2 separate regions of the Homo sapiens genome follow, and region 2 is linked to region 1. A link means that fine-mapping ties the variant in region 1 to the expression of a gene that starts in the linked region. Tissue or cell type: lung. Region 1 holds a variant in brackets; the other region holds the start of a gene. All regions are shown on one strand. Distances are from middle to middle. Region 1 has its middle 21 kb from the start of ADAM23. Region 2 holds the start of ADAM23 (ADAM metallopeptidase domain 23).

The links.
Region 2: it holds the start of ADAM23, and the variant in region 1 is fine-mapped to the expression of ADAM23 in lung (TOPMed, PIP 0.97).

What each region holds. Positions count from the first base shown.
Region 1 is chr2:206,417,548-206,428,165 of GRCh38, forward strand. It overlaps the pseudogene HNRNPA1P51. Among named protein-coding and RNA genes, the nearest start is that of ADAM23, 21 kb to the right of the region's middle. The variant T/C (reference allele first, on the strand shown) is at 5,187.
Region 2 is chr2:206,438,948-206,449,565 of GRCh38, forward strand. It overlaps ADAM23 (ADAM metallopeptidase domain 23), which reads left to right and starts at 4,585. Exons shown (of 26, transcript NM_003812.4): 1 at 4,585-5,133; 2 at 6,360-6,577. The coding sequence starts at 4,920. RefSeq lists a silencer at 5,030-5,159.

The DNA of each region.
Region 1 (10,618 bases):
TTTCATGGGTTGACTCAGGTGGGCAGTTCTGCTCGTTTCACTTGGAATTTCTCATATGGTTGCCGTCAGTTGGTGACTGTGGTTAGAGTCATCTGGACTTTACTGCAATCAATGTGCCTGTTCATTCTCTAAGTAGACTCAAGACCTCTTCTGTTCTTTTTTTTTCTTTTTTAATTATACTCAAAGTTTTAGGGTACATGTGCACAACATGCAGGTTAGTTACATATATATACATGTGCCATGTTGGTGTGCTGCACCCAGTAACTCGTCATTTAACATTAGGTATATCTCCAAATGCTATCCCTCCCCCCTCCCCCAACCCCACAGCAGGCCCCATTGTGATGTCCCGCTTCCTGTGTCCATGTGTTCTCATTGTTCAATTCCCACCTATGAGTGAGAACATGTGGTGTTTGGTTTTTTGTCCTTGTGATATCTTGCTGAGAATGATAGTTTCCAGCTTCATCCATGTCCCTACAAAGACGTGAACTCATCCTTTTTTATGGCTGCATAGTATTCCATGGTGTATATGTGCCACATTTTCTTAATCCAGTCTATCATTGGTGGACATTTGAGTTGGAAGACCTCTTCTGTTCTTATGGCCACTCCATGTGGCCTCTGTCACGGGACTTTTTACGTGGCAGCTTAGGGTTTCCCAAAGCCAGCATTCCAAGATGGAGGAAAAAAAAATCAGTCCATCCTTTTAAAGGCTAGGCTTAGAAATAGTGTAGCATCACTTTTGCTGAATTCTACTGGTTAACTCAAGTCACAGGCCAGCCCAGATTCAATGTGGGAGGGTTTTATGCAAGGATATGAATACTGAGTGTCATGGTACAATGGATGGCCATCCTTAGAGACTAGCCACCACAGTCCACCCTCTGTTTCTCAATAATGTATGTCCTTCCTTCATGCAAAATACATTTTTCTCCCTTCCAAGACCATTGAAGTCTACTCATACCATGGCATCAGGTTTGGGCTTTAAATCCAGGATCATGTCATCTGAATCATATCTAGGTGAGCTTAAGGTTTCTTGGGTTCAGCTATCGTCAACCTGAAGACTGATGAAGTAAAAAGACAAATAATCCGCTTCCCACCCAAAACACAAATACAATGGCTAGGCAGTGATGAAAAACTGAAATAGAAATCCCATTCATGAAAGGGAAAACAGGAAGCATAGAGCAGTCACTGGTTCATAGCAATTCTGAAATTAAGTTGAGAAAATTTTGCCAATTCTTTGACCAAAATTCATTTCTACTCCCTAGAGTGGTCCTCTGTGGCTCTTGGTTCCACCATTTAGGCTTTGTTTTCACCCTCTGAGTCATCTTTCCTTTTGCATAAGAAATGGCCTGTATTTACAGCTGAGTAGCTTCCTCAGCTTTCTTTCTATCAATATAAACCTATGGCCCAGCGACTTCTTTTCATTTTTTTTAAAGACATTTATTCAGCATCACGATCAGACTATTACATTTAGCAATCAATAGCATGGGTGCAAAAAAAAATCTACATTTCAAAATCCTTTGTTGGAATGCTTTACACTTTCCACAGAACAGAAACTAAAATAACCTGTTATACAATTAGTCACAAATACAGTCCTCGAGCTTTTTGCCCATACACATGAGTACTTGTCTAAAACATGTCTTCTTTGTAGCAGCTAGGCCATGCCACCACTGTGTTTTGCTGGGTTCACAAATCTGTTGTAACTTGTAGCTTCCCTGTCACTTCTCTGGCTCTCCTATCCTGCTAAGCTTCTGCCACTGCCATAGCTACTGCTGCTACTGGAACAGCCATAGCCACCTTGGTTTCATGGTTTGGCTAAGTATTGGTCTCCACCACCATAGGGGCCAGAGGTTCTGCCTCCAATCCTCCCTTCATGGGTCCAAAATTTGAAGACTGTTGTAATTGCCAAAGTCATTGTAGCTTCCACCACTTCCAAAATTGCTTCCATCATTACCAAATCCATTATAGCCATCCCCACTGCCACCATATCCACCACCACCATGGCTGCCACCAAAGCCACCACGACCACTGAAGTTTCCTCCATGACCAAAGTTGTCATTCCCACCAAAACCACCTCCACGACCACGACCAAAGTTTCCAGAACAACTTCGACCTCTTTGGCTGGACGAAGCATTAGCCATCTCTTGCTTTCACAGGGCTTTCCTAACTTCACAGTTGTGGCCATTCACAGTGTGGTATTTCTGAATGACAATCTTATCCACAGAGTCATGGTTGTCAAAGATTACAAAGGCAAAGCCCCTTTTGTTGCCACTGACTCTGTCAGTCATGATTTCAGTCACTTCAATTTTTCTACACTGCTCAAAATAATCTCTTAGGTGATGTTCTTCAGTGTCTTCTTTAATGCCACCAACAAATATCTTTTTCACAGTTAAGTGGGCACCTGGTCTCTGAGAATCTTCTCTTGAGACAGCTCTCTTTGGTTCCATGACTCTTCCATCCACCTTGTGTGGCCTGGCATTCATGGCTGCATCCCCCTCCTCCACAGTGTCATATATGACAAAACCAAAGCCCGTGGAGCACTTGGTGTTTGGATCTCTCATTACCACACAGTCTGTGAGTGTTCCCCCATTGCTCAAAATGGCTCCTCAGGCTCTCATCGGTTGTTTCAAAGCTCAACCCTCCAATGAAGAGTTTCCTCAGCTGTTCGGGCTCTTTAGGAGACTCTGACTTAGACATGACAGCAGGAAGAAGAGAGACTTTAACTATGCTTCTTTGGCGGCGTCCACGGGGGGAAAGGAGCAAGCTGATGAACATATATCAGACTTCTTTTCATTTTAAACTATGTTTGCATCTTTTAGTCCAAGCTGATGGTACAGTTCTCTTGAACTGTGCCAGTGTCCTATCAACCTTACAGGGTCACTCGATTAGACAGAAGCCACATACACAATTGTTTTTGAGACAGACCCCCTCTACCTTGGCCTGTGAATCAGGGTGCTGTGGGACAATGTCTTAATATTCTTAGAAGCTCTATTGTCTGGGTGAGAGTGTTTATAAGACATACCATTTAAGGTTCTTAGAAGTCTTTCTGTGTAGATAAAAGGGTCTATGAGGAATATCCTCAACACTTCCTAAGGTCTCAACAAATTGGCTACCTCACTGATGCAAAATTACTCCTGGGATCATGTTTTGCCAGAAGAGTCCTGGATTTGATCTTTGCTGTGAGGTCATCTCTTCCAGGATCTTTTGCTGCCTGGAGGAGCTAGAAAAGAGAAAGTTTTATTTTTGAATCCAGAAAGTCCTAAATTCTGTATATTTTCTCCTAATTTTGGTTAAAAACTGAAGAATTACTTTTTTAGTTCATGTTTCTCCTCCTGTATGTTAACACAGGCAGCCAAAAGAAGCCAGTTGGTGCTTTTGATACAGTCGTATGTGTGGGGAATTGGTTCCAGGAACACTGCAGATACCAGAATGCGAGGATGCTCAAGTCCCTTATATAAAATGGTAGAGTATTTGCATATAAACTATGCACATCCTTCCGTATACTTTAAAACATCTCTAGATTACTTATAATATCAGATACAATGTAAATGCTATGTAAATAGTGGTACTACATTTTAAAAATGGGTATTATTTTTATTGCTGTACTATTATTATTTATTTGAGTATTTTCCACCCATGGTTGGTTGAGCCAATGGATGAGGAACCCGTGGAGGCAGAACCCATGGATACAGAGAAGCTGACTGCATTCTGACTGAAAATCTCCTAGCCAGAGCTATCTGTTTACGACATATTCTTCCTGTCTTCCATGCTACAGGGGATAGTTTTGCTAATTGGTCTGCACATAATTCAGGTCACGTTTTCTCCAGTTTCCAATAGCAATTTCTTCGGTGTCCTTCGAGTCTTCACTATTCACCTCCTTAAGGAGCTTTCCAGCTTCTGCCTGCCACTGAATTCCAAAGCCCATGCCATATGTTTTAGGGTTTTGTTATGGCAACACCCTACTTCTATGAATCAAGTCCTGTTTTGGTCGTGTATTGCTTAAACTTAAAACTTATGAGTACTTAAACAATAACCAGTTTATTAGCTCTCATTGTTCTGTGGTTGACTGAGCACAGCCATGAAGTTCTACTGGTTTAACTGGGATCTTTCTTGTGGCTGCAGTAAGATGTTGGCTGTGGTGGGGGTCAACTGGTGGTTGCAACTGGGATCCCGAGACAGCTAGGTCTCTTTCCTTCTCCATATGGCCTCTCTGTGTGGTCTTTCTAGTCATGTAGCTGTACTTCCTTCCTTCTTTTTTGAGACAGAATCTCACTCTGTCACCCAGGCCTAGGCTGGAGTGCAATGGCATGATCTCAGCTCACTGCAACTTCCACCTCCCAGGTTCAAGCGATTCTTGTGCCTCAGCCTCCTGAGTAGCTGGGATTGCAGGCATGTGCCACCACGCCTGGCTAATTTTTGTATTTTTAGTAGAGACATAGTTTCACCATGTTCGCCAGGCTGGTCTCGAACCCCTGACCTCAAGTGATCCACCCGCCTTAGCCTCCCAGAGTGCTGGGATTGCAGGCATGAGCCACTGCGCCCACCCTAATTACATGGCTGTACTTCTTACACTGTGGCTCTGGATTCCACAAATGGAATGTTCCAAGAGGGAGGAAGAAGCAGCAGCCAGTCCTTTTAAAGGCTGAAATTGGTGCCGTGCCACTTTGACCACTTTCGATTGGAAATCTTAAGTCGGTGTAGGAGAGAACCACACGAGGGCATGGATACCACGAGGCGTGAAATTTGGTGTCCATCTTAGGAGACTAGTTACCACATAGTGTATGTGGCTAGATATTTGCAATTTGAAGTCAGCAGGAATGGAGAAGTATTCCTTAATTATGGACACAATTGTATTAGAGGATCTGCTGTGGTTCAGCTAGGAACATACCTACATACATGCAGGTATGTTTATGAACATGTGTGTGTGTAGACAGATATTAAAAATTTTGAAAATGCATGCAGTCATTGCCTAATAACAGACAATTCACAAAACATACTTTGCTATGTGAGTTAATATGGAGGAAAATGGGAAAGACAAGAAATATTAGCCTGGAAGTGAAGGAATTCCTCATCTAAACCAAGGATTGCTACAGTATGGTAGTGTGACCTTGGACAAGTTCCAGCCTCTCTGGCTCTTAGTTTTCTTATCTTAAGAACCCTTTCCTGTTTAAAATTCTTGGACACTAATCACA[T/C]GTTTTGCTCTTTCTCATATTTCAAGACTGAGTTGAAATGCTACCTCTTCTGTGATGTCTTCCTCCAAATCTAAATCTAATCACATCCTATGCAGAGTGATGTGATGTTCTCAGATTGATGGCCACCAAGTTAGCAAAAACTTTTTAAATGTTTCACCACATCTAGAGAACAAGGGATTTGTGAAATCAAACAGTAATTTGAATTATTTATCTGTGGGCTGAAAACACAAATTTGTCATTTTTTAAGTTTCTGCTTTTCATCATGGATATAACATAGGTGAAGTTCTCTATGTGGATGGCTGTTTCAACAGTTGTTTAAATAGATGTAATTATGGTCGTAAGGTAGACTAACTGCTAAAACAAACAACCCCAACATTTCAGTGGCTTAACATAATAAAAGTTTAGTTTTTGCTCATGTAATAGTTCAATATGAGCATTTGTGGACAAGCAGTTCCTGGGCAGCTCTCCTCTGCTATTTCCTCACAGTTTTTCTTTCCTTTTCTTTTTAATGTCATTGAGGACTTCTCCATTCAACTGGCAGGTGAAGCCAGAGAGACTGGATTGCACATGGAGGTTGTTCTGGTCCAGGTCCAGAAGTGATGTCTCTCTCCTGCCTGCATCCATTGGCCAGAACACAGCCACGTGACTGACTGCTCATAGCTTCAGGGGAGGCTGGGAAATGTAGTTTACCTGTGTGCCCAGGAAAGAGAGCAATTAGATATTGGTGAGCAGCTAGCATCCTCTGCTACAATGTCCTTTCTTCCGTTCTTCATATTTTACTCCACAGCCCTTTGACATTTATTTATCTGTGTACAAATTCTATTTTTCACTTTAATATTAGAGAATTTAGAAAATATAGAAAGGTAAAGAGAAGAAACCAATAATTGCCCATAATAACTCAGTGGTTATTTGGTTATTTTTGGAATATTAATATGTATATATATATATATTTAGAATGGTTGAAATTATAACTTTGCATCACTTTGTAATCTTTTTTTAATCACTTAATAGTGCAAGAGAAGTACTTTCCTATGTCAACAAAACTCTCCATAATTGATGCCTAAAAAGCTTTATAAAATTCCATCTCATGATAATTTACTGTATGAGTAGAAAGAATAGAGAGAAATGTTTGGACAGGTTTCAAAAGACCTAGTGTATCAGCGAATCCCTGTGTTAATGGTAAAGCAGCTCAGTGTTATAGCCTCAGGGTGGGATGAGGGGAAGGAGACTTCTTGCTAAATACTTTCTCTGATATATTGCATGCTCCATTAGAATAAATATCTTAGTTTCAAATTGATAATTCATTATCAGCTAAAATGCTTCTTGAGATTAATTTCTTCTTTTCACTGTCAGCACATTAAAACACAAAGGGATTGGCAGATTATATTCCAAAAACTGGAAGAGATTAATTTTGCCATTTGAATTATTTTGCATTTTGATAGCCTTCTTGGTTTTTTTTCTGTTTCTTTTCACCCGTAAGTAGTCAGAATTGTCATAAACATGGAGCTGCTTATTTTCTAGCCCACTAGAAGTAGTGTTGGACAGTAGCAGGGCTTCCTGATGCTCACACTATCAGATTTATGAAGCGGAAGAAAGATATTCCAGTAACGGGGCAAATTCACTTCCAGGGAGGAAATGCCAAGCAACCTTATTGCTAGTTAATGTCAACATGGATCAGTAGAAAGAAATTCTCCCTGATTATATGCTAAAGGCTGTGTCCTTTTTTGGTAAACTCTCCACATCTGTCATTTCTTGACAAATGAATCTTAGTAAAAACATGTTGAAGATGAAAAAGATAATAAGGAGACATTGTATTTTTATTGTCTTTATGTCTGTTAAACATTGTTTCTTGTTTCCAGAGATGCTTTAAATGTAAAAATTGACATAGCTGTGAGTTGTTGGAATAGAAAGAAAAGTTAGAGTGCAGAAAATGTCAAAGTTTAACTGTTGTTCTCAAGTCTAACAGTGACTGCAGACTAGATTATGAAAATCGAGTTGAATGGGGTCTTTTTCAAGCTACAATGAGACTGTTTTAATCTCACTGACGTTTTTGCCAGAGCTCTTTCTCAAATAATAATTAGGTCCTCCTCCAACTTAGCTTTCCTTAATCTTCTACTTTGAAAATTCTACCAAAATAAGCCTGAGTTAAATTTTGAACTAAAAATCATGAAATTTTATTGCTGTTATCATCATAAGATCAATATATTTTCATTGTTTGAAATTGAAAAATGCAGAAAAGTAGAAAGGAGAATGAGAATTGCTCAATCTTATTACCCAAAAACAACCACAGTTATTATTTTGGAGTTTTCCTTTCTAAATATATATTTTACAAAGGTTAAATGTTGTAGTCATATTATATATACAATTATGCATCTTAATTTGCTTACTGTTATAAGAATTTACCATCTCATTACAGATCCCATAAATATGATTTTACTAAATATTTTATGATTATAAAACTAAGGCAGTATTACTGTAGAAAATTTAGAAAATATAGAAAGGTAGGCCGGGCATGGTGGCTCACGCCTGTAATCCCAGCACTTTGGGAGGCTGAGGTGGGTGGATTACCTGAGGTCAGGAGTTCGAGACCAGCCTGGCCAACATGGTGAAACCCCGTCTCTACTAAAAATACAAAAAAATTAGCTGGGGTGGTGGCAGGTGCCTGTAATGCCAGCTACTTGGGAGGCTGAGGAAGGAGAATCGCTTGAACCTCAGAGATGGAGGTTGCAGTGAGCTGAGGTCTTGCCATTGCACTCCAGCCTGGGAGACAAGGGCAAAACTGTCTCAAAAAAAAAAAAAAAAAGGAAAGTAAGAAAATAAAAGAAAGGTAAAGAGAAGAAACCAAGAAACCAATAATTGTCGATAACCCTATCACTCAGTGATTATTTGGTTATTTTTGGAATATCGATATGTATATATATATTTTTAAATGGTTGAAATTAAAATTTATAAACCACTTTGTATTCTATTTTCAATCACCTAATAGTACAAGAGAAGTACTTTCCTATGTCACCAAAACTCTTCATAAATGATGCCAAAAAACTTCATAAAATTCCATCACATGATAATTTGCCTAATGCCCTATTGTTGTGCAAAATAATGCTGTAATAAATATCTTCAGGTATAAATTTTTATTTTCATTTTTGAATTTTTCCTCTGGAAAAATTCTTAAAAGTCCCAGAGTATGAAAACATTAAGGTTTATGATTCACATTTCCAGAATAGTGGCACCTGTTTGTCTTCCTACCAGCAATGAATGTGTGCCTGTCTGACACTGTCGCCTGCATTTTATTATTTAAAAAAAAATCCATGCAAATGACAGATGAGTATTAACATCAAGTTTCTCTGATCAAGCTGATTCTGAATAGTCAGGACAGTATTCTGAGGACTTCGGCTATTTGAATCTTGCACCTTCCATTCCCTGGGGTTAGAAGGAGCCTGTGTGTTCATGTCTATCTTTCTTTTTTCTTTTGAGACAGAATCTCGCTCTGTCGCCCAGGCTGGAGTGTAGCAATGCGATCTTGGCTCAATCCAACCTCCGCTTCCCGGATTCAAGCAATCCTCCTGCCTCAGCCTCTCGAGTAGCTGGGATTACAGGCGTCCCCCCCACCATGCCTGGCTTGTTTTTTGTGTTTTTAGTAGAGACGAAGTTTCACCATGTTGGCCAGGCTGGTCTCGAACTCCTTGACCTCAGGTGATCCACCCACCTCAGCCTCCCAAAGTGCTGGGATTACAGGCATGAGCCACCGTGCCAGCCCATGTCTATCTTTCAATAAAGATTTTTGAGTGCTAGAACCCTCTGCTAGATTCTAGGGAAATAAAGACAAATAAGCTATGGTCACTGGACTTAAGGCAGAGTTTTTGAGCTGATGTGCATAGGCACATGGTTGTGTTAAGATACTGAGCTTCTTGGCCTTTGGAGCACCTAGATGAGGCCTGAGGTGACTAGAACCACTGGGCTGGTCACTTCTGTCAGACAAGTGAGTGGACTTTGTTGTTGAATCTGATGTGACCAAGGTAGGAAACACTGCCTCCCGATCATCTGGATGTTCTTCTAGGTCTTTGTCTTTCTCAGAACCACAGATTCTTGGGCAAGAACAAATATTTTGTGAGTCAACTAGTCTTTCTTCATTGCCCTCCAACACACACACACATACACACACACACACACACACACACACATATCCCATGCTGCTGATGGTGGGGAGGGCAGAATCACATTCTCTATGACCTACAATATAACCTGGTAAAATACAATATTTCTTACTATGGGCTTAATTAAGCTCTTTGAAAGGCTGCAGGACCACCTTGGGCAAGATTAAAGGCACTACTTTTATTTATTTATTTATTATTATACTTTAAGTTCTAGGGTACATGTGCATAACGTGCAGGTTTGTTACATATGTATACATGTGCCATGTTGGTGTGCTGCACTCATTAACTCGTCATTTACATTAGATATATCTCCTAATGCCATCCCTCCCCCGTCCCCCCACCCCACAACAGGCCCCGGTGTGTGATGTTCCCCATCCTGTGTCCAAGTGTTCTCATTGTTCGATTCCCACCTATGAGTGAGAACATGTGGTGTTTGGTTTTCTGTCCTTGCAATAGTTTGCTGAGAATGATGGTTTCCAGCTTCATCCATGTCCCTACAAAGGACATGAACTCATCCTTTTTTATGGCTGCATAGTATTCCATGGTGTATATGTGCCACATTTTCTTAATGCAGTCTATCATTGATGGACATTTGGGTTGATTCCAAGTCTTTGCTATTGTGAATAGTGCTGCAATAAACATACATGTGCACGTGTCTTTATAGCAGCATGATTTATAATCTTTTGGGTATATACCCAGTAATGGGATGGCTGGGTCAAATGGTATTTCTAGTTCTAGATCCTTGAGGAATCACCACACTGTCGTCCACAATGTTTGAACTAGTTTACAGTCCCACCAACAGTGTAAAAGTGTTCCTATTTCTCCACATCCTCTCCAGCACCTGTTGTTTCCTGACTTTTTAATGATCGCCATTCTAACTGGTGTGAGATGGTATCTCATTGTGGTTTTGATTTGCATTTCTCTGACGGCCAGTGATGATGAGCATTTTTTCATGGGTCTGTTGGCTGCATAAATGTCTTCTTTTGAGAAGTGTCTGTTCATATCTTTCACCCACTTTTTGATGGGGTTGTTTGATTTTTTTCTTGTAAATTTGTTTAAGTTCTTTTTAGATTCTGGGTATTAGCCCTTTGTCAGATGGGTAGATTGCAAAAAATTTTCTCCCATTCTGTAGGTTGCCTGTTCACTCTGATGGTAGTTTCTTTTGCTGTAAAGGCACTACCTTTTAGTTGTAATGATTTATGAGATTTCAGACTCTCCCTAGCTGGGAAGGAACATGGTGAATTGCATTATTCAGAGGGCACAATAAATAACCCCTCA
Region 2 (10,618 bases), 21 kb after region 1:
CCTGGTCTTCAGAATGAGCAGTGGTGTAATTAACACAGACCTGCAGACTTGCAGACTAATTTTCATGAACTTGAAGGTTGCCTGTGACATGGGGTGTGGCTCTGTGTCAGGAGTGTGTATCCCCTGCCGCATGGCCGCTCTACAGGATTGAGTTTGAGGAACACAGGCAGATCCCAGATGGTGACAGGCTCTGGGAAGGACTAGAGTGCATGTATTACTCCATTCTCTGACCACTCATGGCTGTAGCATCCATTCAGCATCCCCTACTCACAAGAAAGTATAGCTTGGAAAAACAAAAGAAATGTCTAGAATCTTTTTGACATCTGTATTTTTTTTTTTGGTGAATGATTTCTGACTTTTCTCCCATTATCATCATCTGAGAATTGGCTTCAAAAGGAGAAATACTTCTTTCCTAAGGGATCCCTTCAAATGATGAACATCTTTTGAGAATTTAGTGACTACTTACTGATTAAACAACTATCTAAATTACAATGGAGAGCAATCTTTTCTAGAATTAGAGCCCTCTATATTGTGGCACACGCTTCCTTCGCTTTTTCTGCTTATATGCACAGGACATAATACAGTTGATGAAAAAAATTTAACCTTACATATATATATATTTAAGGTGTATATATATAGTATATATTATAAGGTATATATATTTAAGGTAAATATATATATATATATATATATATATAGAGAGAGAGAGAGAGAGAGAGAGAGAGAGAGAGAGATTTAAAAATGGCTAGCTGACAAACCAGGTCCTGTAGGCTGCATGGTTTTCACATTCTTAGAGGTTTGTAAAGAAAAAAAAATGCAGCAGAGACCATATGGCCCACAAAACCCAAAATGTTTATTATCTGGCCTTGTACAGAAAATGTTTGCTGACTCCTGAACCACGTGGCAAGTACCAATAACGAAGCACACTCGCTTTTTACTTTCATGAAGAAATGCATTGTCTTTTCTCCTTTGAAGTATCCACTTCCGCTGGTAAAATCAGTCTTCACAGCTATTCTAAAAGGAGGCTGAGAAACCTTCTCTAGCTGGCTCTGTAACACAGGCTGTCCCAGCGAGCTCCTGGGTATAAGCTGCTCTTGAGCCAGAGCTGCTGTTTGAGGCTTGTTCATGCTCTTGCTTTCACTCCCTAGATCTCTCTTAGTATCAGCACCATCCACTAATTTGCTGCACACCTTCTTTGACCTTGACTTTTTGGGCAAATGCTTATTCCATTCCAATTGCTCTTGTAAGTCTGCTTTGCTACCTTCCCCTGCTTTTTTACTTATTTTACCCTCTGGACCTCTCTTCTGTCATCCCCTTCTTCTACTTTCTCCCCTAGCATCTCAGCCCTCTTGAGGCCAAGGCCTGCTACATCTAATATTTCTATTTCTGTCCTTTGCTTGCTCCTGTCCAGACCCAGTCTTCTCACTGGTTGCAAAGTGGGTCCAGTTCTACCACTGGAAACAGATTTTGGCAAATAGAGACCTTCTGATCTCCTCCCTCACCAGACCAATGGACCATTTTTGTGAACAGTATGACGACCCTTCCTGGGTATTGCTCACATGCACCCCTCATGGTGCTTACCTAGGGTCCATATTGCCTGGTGTAATTTCCTTCCCATGGACCTTCTGGCCACCTGCCTTCACCTACGACTGCAGCATTTCTCCATGTCTGCCACTGTGACTAGATCACTCCAGTGATCCTCTGATGGCCTTAGGATCCAACACACATTGGTAACCAGGGCCATTATAGCACTCAAGCTTCTGGTATATTTCTTTATTCCAGTCCATCTTGCTGAATCCCTCTGTTTCCTACCTGTGAGTGCCCCTCTATGAATGCTGATTTGATTCCAGGTACTATACTAGGCTGTGGAGTCAGAGATGACCAAGATACAGCCTTGCTCTCAGTATTTTTTGATGGAAGAATGATGATATGCACATACACGAATACAGAGCAAAGCAGTAGGTGGCAAGTGATTAAGCAAGTCACTAAATCTTATGAAAGCACAGAGGGGAATATTTAGAAGTAAACTCTATAAAAATAAAAATTCTGAACTACCTAATAAGAATATTACTAACTCTACCAAGTTGACCAATTAAATTATTTAATCAGTTAATATTTGATTCTGTTTTTAACCTTCCCTTAAATATATGGCTTAAAGACTAAACTTCCAGTAAATTTTTTCTAAGTAATGTACTCTTTCTCTGACTCATTATTTCATTTATTGATATCTTATTTTGACTCTAGCAATGTCTGTAACCATTAAAGTTCTGTAAATAAATGCAGTCTTTTGACTATAGTACATAAGACAACATCCCTCTTTGTAAATACCCCAACCCCTTATTAGAAACTATATTGAGGCCAGGTGCGGTGGATCACGCCTGTAATCCCAGCACTTTGGGAAGCTGAGGTGGGTGGATCACCTGAGGTCAGGAGTTTGAGAACAGCCTGGCCAACATGGTGAAACCCCGTCTCTACTAAAACTACAAAAATTAGCCGGGTGTAGTGGCACGTGCCTGTAATCCCAGCTAATCCCAGCTACTTGGGAGGCTGAGGCAGGAGAATCGCTTGAACCTGGGAGGCAGAGGTTGCAGTGAGCTGAGATCGCACTACTGCATTCCAGCCTGGGTGACACAGCAAGACACCATCTCAAAAAAAAAAAAAAAAAAAGAAAAAAAGAAACTATATTGAATCCTCATTCCATACCCCAAGTGCATGAAATGATGTGTTGTAACTGGTGGGTGGGTTTGGTCAGTCCAGGTTGGCTGATAGGTTTATTTATCAGAACAGACTTTAAGAGGTTGTCACTGAATTGCAAGAGATGCCTTTCAAGTAACTTGCATCTGGGTGCTTTGCACCTTTCATTTCCCTCTCCCTTCTCATTGCTTGTACATCTCCTTTCTGGCTTGCTTTCTCTCAGGCCCTTTTTCAGGATGCATATTGTGTCAAATATAAATTTGGAAAACCTAGCCAGAGAATACTTGACTTGAGGGAGACAACCCTAAGAACATTGACCTGCAGTGGGCACTCCGGTGGGGCTAGAGTGTTCACTAGCCTGCCCCAAGTGTGACTTCTGCTTGTGTGTATCACCCATTTCTTTATTCATTTAGTACATATTTTCCAAGCGATTTCTCTGTGCCTCAGACACTGTGTGAGGTCCTAGGGACACAATGGTGTGCAGAAGGGAAAACTGTTGTTGCCCTCACATGGGGGAGGTAGCAACAATTACAAATTTACAGGAATAAATATGTGATAATAATATCCTAGCTCAACATAGAAAGGAAGTTATCTCAGTATTTACCTAACAGTTTTGTAATGTGTGTGTGCGCGCGCGTATATGTCTTCTTCTTTTCTCTTTGTTAAGTGTGAGTGGAGAAGATGATGGCTAACACTGAGTTCTGTCATGGCCATGGCACTTTTATACCCACATTCTTTCTTTTAATCATGGAATTCTCCACCCCAGCCCTCACCCCGTGGATGTCGGAGTAAGACAACATTGTTATCACTCAGATTGTCATTGGGAGGGTGAATAAATGAATGCTTGCATTATGAGAGTTTGGGGGCAGAAATATGCCACAGACTCTTATCTGAAGCCATCAGATTTAGTGGCTGCGAACCCACCGAAGTCAGGGATTTACATTTTTTACAGCAACGAGAGAAAACTTCCCCTTTCCTCTGCAGAAGTCAGGACTGGATCTCAAAAATAGAAATGTGTCCTCCTAAATGTGTGCCCATCCCCGTGGTTGACAAACAACGGATTTCCCAAGATAGCTGCCACACACTTGGTTTCTAATCTCTGTATTGCTTCCCCGCCAGAATGTCGAAGTCCTTCCCGAATATGCCCAGTCATACTTTCTGAACTTTTGAGCAAACACCGTCCGGCTTCTTGTGCTTTCCTCAAAGACCCCAGGCACCGGCAGGGAGGACACAGGCCGGGGCAGAGCGCCCCTGCGCGGGGGATTCCTGCCACTCCGCGCCAGCCTGCGGCGCAAACGCTCTTCTCAGCCGCAGTCCCACCCGCTGCTGGCAATCTGAATGAGGAGCCGCGCTATTTTTACCTCCCCGGCTGCAATCCTTTATATTTACATGCAGGAAGCAAATATATAAGGGATTAAGAAGGAGATGCGTGGCCTTAGTTTATCCAGAGCAGGAAGAGGTTGGAATAGGAGAGGGTATGTGAAGTCTGGGGTGGTGGAAAAGGCAGGTGGACTTCGGCTGGTTGTTTTCTCCCGATCATCCCTGTCTCTGGCCTGGAAACCCCCGTACTCTCTTTCTTCTGGCTTATCCGTGACTGCCGGCTCCCCCTCCACCGCCCCCATCTTTTGAGGTACCACCCGTCACCTCCGATGCTGCTTGGGCTGCTGCATCACTCTGCTGCTTTACCCCCTTCCCCGCCCCCCAACAAAGCATGCGCAGTGCGTTCCGGGCCAGGCAACAGCAGCAGCACAGCATCCAGCAACAGCATCAGCACCCGAAGCCCCGCTCGGGCGCGCTCTCGGGGGGCGGGGCGCACGCCCGCTCCGCGCGTCCCCGCGCCGCTCGCTCCCGCGCGTCCCCGCGCCGCTCGCTCCCGCGCGCCGCCTCAGCATCCTCAGGCCCGGCGGCAGCCCCCGCAGTCGCTGAAGCGGCCGCGCCCGCCGGGGGAGGGAGTAGCCGCTGGGGAGGCTCCAAGTTGGCGGAGCGGCGAGGACCCCTGGACTCCTCTGCGTCCCGCCCCGGGAGTGGCTGCGAGGCTAGGCGAGCCGGGAAAGGGGGCGCCGCCCAGCCCCGAGCCCCGCGCCCCGTGCCCCGAGCCCGGAGCCCCCTGCCCGCCGCGGCACCATGCGCGCCGAGCCGGCGTGACCGGCTCCGCCCGCGGCCGCCCCGCAGCTAGCCCGGCGCTCTCGCCGGCCACACGGAGCGGCGCCCGGGAGCTATGAGCCATGAAGCCGCCCGGCAGCAGCTCGCGGCAGCCGCCCCTGGCGGGCTGCAGCCTTGCCGGCGCTTCCTGCGGCCCCCAACGCGGCCCCGCCGGCTCGGTGCCTGCCAGCGCCCCGGCCCGCACGCCGCCCTGCCGCCTGCTTCTCGTCCTTCTCCTGCTGCCTCCGCTCGCCGCCTCGTCCCGGCCCCGCGCCTGGGGGGCTGCTGCGCCCAGCGGTGGGTATGGCCCCGTGCCCTTTGCGTTGGCTTTCCCGCGGGGCCCTGCAGAGGAAAGCGAAGGGCGCGCGGGTCCGTGTGCTCCGGGCTTGTCCCCGGCTCGGCCTTTCCTTCCCTCCCTGCCTGTCTTTCCACCCTTCTCGTTCCCAAACCCCCATTCATCCCAGTTCACTTTTGGAAGTCCATTTCTGTTGCATTCGCGAAAAACCCATTCCAATTCTTGTTGGTTCCACTGGGAGGTGTTTAGTGGATCCTGGGTCCCTCAGCGATCTCTGTGCAACTTGCGGAGGGGCAACCAGTGGATGGGAAATACAGCGAGGGAGCAAGTTGCTACTTGCGTGGTGGAACCTTAATGTGAATGCGGGGAGGATGTAGTGATAATAGTGGTAATGGGCTGTTTCCTCAAATTTCGTATCCGGCGCATTCAGTGCGGTTGGAATTAAGGTGGGGGAGGCACACTTCGGGGACCAAAGAATTAAGGTGCTGAAGACATACTTCATGCACGACCTTTGGTTCTGATTTCTCAAAGTGCTTGTCATTATAATGAACAATTAATATAATACCATCTTCTATATATTGATGATTGGAAGTCACTGAAAGCAGAAAGCTGGCTTTGTCAGGAAAATAAAAAGAAATTGGGAAGCTGCCAGCATCTGTATCCCTACATGGCAAAGTATGTTTGCTCATCTTAAAGTTAAAAGAGAAGGGAATTGTCCATTTTGTTAAAAGAGTCGATTAATATTCGGTATCCATAAATTCAGTACTCAAGTTATCTTAGGAGCGTTCTTAGCTCTTGGATGGGATGCCACTAGGCAGAGTAGAGTTGTGCTTCTGTGGACTCAGAGAAGGGGTGGAGATCGGGGGCAGGACCCCTGAACATGTTCATTTAATGACTCTTCTTCCCTCAAGTTCATTCTACCCCCCCCCCAACACTTAGAAGTATAGATTTGAGTCTGACTAGAAATGTATATATAAGACATAAATCAAAATAAATAGTGCACAGTTGTATAAGCCTTATTGGCTATTTATTAACTTCTCCAGGCCATTTTATTGTTGAAATAACTTGCTTTACTCTAGCTCTACTTCTTAACTGCTTATAAATAGAAAACTTTGTGTTTGAAATTAAAGGAAAAATGCATTTTAGTGCTTATGTATTTATGGGGTAAATATGTGTGTGTTTGTGTATGTTTGTATTTTCTGCTCCCCCACCCCCCTACCTCCACCAGCTCCGCATTGGAATGAAACTGCAGAAAAAAATTTGGGAGTCCTGGCAGATGAAGACAATACATTGCAACAGAATAGCAGCAGTAATATCAGTTACAGCAATGCAATGCAGAAAGAAATCACACTGCCTTCAAGACTCATATATTACATCAACCAAGACTCGGAAAGCCCTTATCACGTTCTTGACACAAAGGCAAGACACCAGCAAAAACATAATAAGGTAGGCAGGAGGCTGGCTATGCAAAAGTAACTATCATGAAGAGTTTTCCTTTGATTTGATTTTCTGCCAGAATCTGAGTTCACAAATTTTACTGCAGCATTTTATTAAGAAAGCAATTAATATTATGATAGGGGAGAAACTGGAAGGAATTAACTTGGGATCTACTGGGATAAGACTGTTGTTTCTCTTCTCTGACTAAACTGGAACTAGAATTTTCTGATACCTGAAATGATATCCATGTATCTTTCAGGTACATTGGGCACTGAACAGTAGTTAAGTGAATGTGTTTATGATTCTAACTTGTTTCTGTGAGGCTTTATGTAAGGGTGCAGTATTCTGCCTTGATATAAAACTGTCTCCCATGATATAAAAACTGCTTTCAATCTGCACATGCAAGATTGCTTCAAGAAGCTATTTGGCTGCAGTGTCTCCATCAGTCTTTCCACTTAGAAATTGAGTGTTTAAACAGTCTGTTTCTTTAATTGATCAGTAGGAGGAAAAAAAAATTTTCTGTTGTATTTTCAATAGGTAAACAATTTGACATTTAAAAAGATTATGGTGACTAGACACAAATTATTTGCATAATATGAAGACCAATTTTGATTGGCATAATTCTTCAGTACCTACTCTGCATTGATTATGAGCAGTTGCTTTACTTTCAGGTTAGTTCAGAAAGTGGAACTGATATTTACCAAGGTATCAGTAGAAGACAAATGTTTAATATCCAAAGAGTTTAAGGGATCTTTTTCCCTGTGTTACTATTCTTTACTTGAATTAATATTATTTTGAACCCCGAGCAGATTTAAACAATGGATTATCGGTTCTTCTGTTGTTTATCGGGAGCAGAAAATAGAGTCTGTATGTTAAATGTTTCATTTTGATCTGTACTTGTTCAGGTGAGAACAACAGTTAGCAATTAACTGTCTAAACATCTAGAATTTAAGAAAGTATCTGCAGTTTACATCATTGTTTTTTATTAGTTTTCTAAAATATAGGTGAGTGGTAACAGTATTTATCCCCATTTTACAAATGGGGAGCTAGAAATTTAAGGCTTTTGGGTGATTTTCCTATGTTGTAAAGCAGCTAATATAAAATTCAGGTGACCTGAATGTTTAATTTTTACTATTTTTTACAAGTTAGGTCTCTGAGAAAGTGCTTTCTTCACCTTGAATATTACTGGAGAGGTGAACTTTCTTTCACATTATTTTGAAGTGGCTGCTACCCACCGTGAGATAAATGTGTCTCTGTTCTCAGCCAGCCCTTTTCTCCATAAGCTCCTATATAACTTAATGGGGTGACTAATAGGTCATGTCTAACTCATTTGTCTTATTGATAGGAGAAATGGGTGTTGTCTTTAAAGAAGAGAAATCCAAGGCCCTTTTGATAAAATGCATTGAGGCTTTTATAGCTTTCCTTATGAATGAGACCTTTTAGAGTTAAGTGGTTAGTTCTCAAACTCCAGCACCTTTGCTTAGGATGCTGGAGGAAGGAAAAACAGCTGCCTCAAAGCCTGTTTCAAAGAATGCTCAAGCCCTCCTCAGCAGAGACTTGAAATTTCAGTGGCACTTTTTAATAACTCAGATGTTTGAGGCTATGACTAATGCTTGCCTTATAGTTTAACCTTATGTGGCTGTTTTCTTTGGTGGGACGTGGTTTGACTGTAATATACCTGACTTCCGTGATAATAAGGTTTGTTAAACCTGTACCCACCGCTTACCTAGAGGAATAGTTGGGTTTCTTTTATACTGTACTTTGAAAAGAATGTTTCTACAGAAATCGTATTTGAAAGCATTTTTCTTATTAGTTTAACTCTATAAACATTTGTTGCACCTTTCTCATATGCAAGCGGTATGCTAAGTATTCAAAGATAAGAGATAAAGGTTAAAAGGATGAAAAGACATGATCTATCCTCCAGGAGGCAGGAAAATGAGATAAGCAAGATTCTAAAAGTGCTCCCGTACAGGTATAGACAGTGTTGTTGTTTGGTGGGTGCCTTGAAATTACCCTTTGTGTTCTGTGACCTCCCTTTTACTTCTGTTTTTAAGCATCTCTTGAAGTAGTTGATAAAAAGTGTTCCATCTGCTTTCTGCTGTATCTTAGGATGACTTGCTTAATAACAGTGATGAGAGACACTTGCCAGTTCTGCTGCTTTAGAAATGTTTCAGTAAGAAAGTATAGAATTTCATTTCTGCTTTTATGTAAAGAAGTTTTTAATATCTGTGTTATGTACCTTTTTTTCCCTCTCCTGATTTCATTGCACTGAAGCACATTTTAATGAAAGCCTTAGAAATGCTGAATCACTGTGCCTTTCTCATGGATCCCTAGACTGGGGGTAGAGGTGGAAATGGAAATTCCCAAATATAGGTTGCAAGGCCAAGCTCCACATTTATGTCTGAAGAAATTTCGTAAATGTTCAATGTTGATCAATCTTTATTACTTTATAGCTGTGAAAGTTAACATGTTTATTAACTCTTCCAGAATTGGTGAGTGTAAAAGCAGATTGTGCAAACCACCTCTTTGCATCCTAATGTTTCTGAATGCCTTAATGTTTCTTTGTCAAACAATGTTGAAAAATCTTTTTTATCTGCATAGAGTGATGTATAACCAGTTGTCCAAACTGTGCCATTTTTTAAAGTAGAAGTGGGCACTCCTAATAATTATGCCAGGTTAGTAGGCATAAACCAAGGTAGTCTAGAGCAGGCAGGGAGTTTTGACACCTTGGATCCAAATGCTGTATTCCTTGATTTTTGGTGCTTACTCAAATTCAAGATTCTTTAAAGACAATTTTATTTTCTGATGATTTATTATAAATTCTTTCTTGCTAGCTAGGAAGTCAGATTCCTGCCGTGTAGCAGTATTAGGGTCTGAAATGGAAAAATTTAATTTTGCTTTGTGTGATATTGTGAAATGTATTTGGTAATTATCCTGTTTCCTGGTACACAGCTTCGAAGACCGTTGGAATCTCCAGAGTGATGAGTGTCTTTCATATGCCAATGAGATGATGGGTGGCTGGGGGTCCCTAAATAGCTTCAGGATGGGAGCTGGTCACCAGAAAGACCAGCACATTATTAGAGGTTTGGGATTTGCACCCCACAACCCCAAAGAGAGAGGCAGAAGGTTGAGTTGATCACCAATAGCCAGTGATTTAATCAGTCATGCCTATGTAAGGAAGCATCCATAAACACCCAAAAGACTGGGTTCTGGAAACTTTTGGATAGCTGAACATGTGGAACTTCCTGGAGGGTGGAGTTCCTGGGGAGGGCATTGAAGATCCTCGCCCTATGTGTCTCTTCCATCTGGCTCTTCATCTGTATTCTTTGTAATATCTGTTATGTAAATGGTAAGTGTAAGTAAAGTATTTCCTGAGTTCTGTGAACCGCTCTAGCAAATTAATTTAAGGGAATTGTGGCTACCCTAGTTTATAGCTGATCTGTCAGGAGCACAGGCCTCCATCTGGGGCTTGAGATTGGCATCTGAAGTGGGCATTTGTAGGCTTGTGGGACTAGGCCTTCAACCAGTGGATCTGACGCTGTCTCCAGGCTAAGAGTGTCAGAATTGAATTGGAGGACATCGAGGTGGTATGTGATGGAGAATCTGCAGAATTACTTGGTGTGTGGGGAAAACCCTCCCATACGTCAGATGTCAGAAGTGTTGGGTTAAGTGTTGTGTGAGACTAGAGAAGGAAAAAACATTGCTTTTTTCTTATATCTCTTACTTTGTTATCAAGATCGATCGTTTTCACTTGTGGAGACTTTTATGGGCGTAAATGGAATTGTATGATTACTAAATATAAGCATTTTATTAACCATTAATGCAATATATTAATAAAATGGACCATACATTTTAAAAGCAGGAGAAACACTTTAGATTCATTCATTCATTCTGAGATAATCCTATGTGGTCTGTTCCTAGGAGAGTTAAGGAAGCTTTTCCTGAAACTTTAGTCAAAAACTACTTGTCCTGCTGGGCGTGGTGGCTCATGCCTGTAATCCCAGCACTCTGGGAGGCTGAGGCGGTTGGATCACCTGAGGTCAGGAGTTT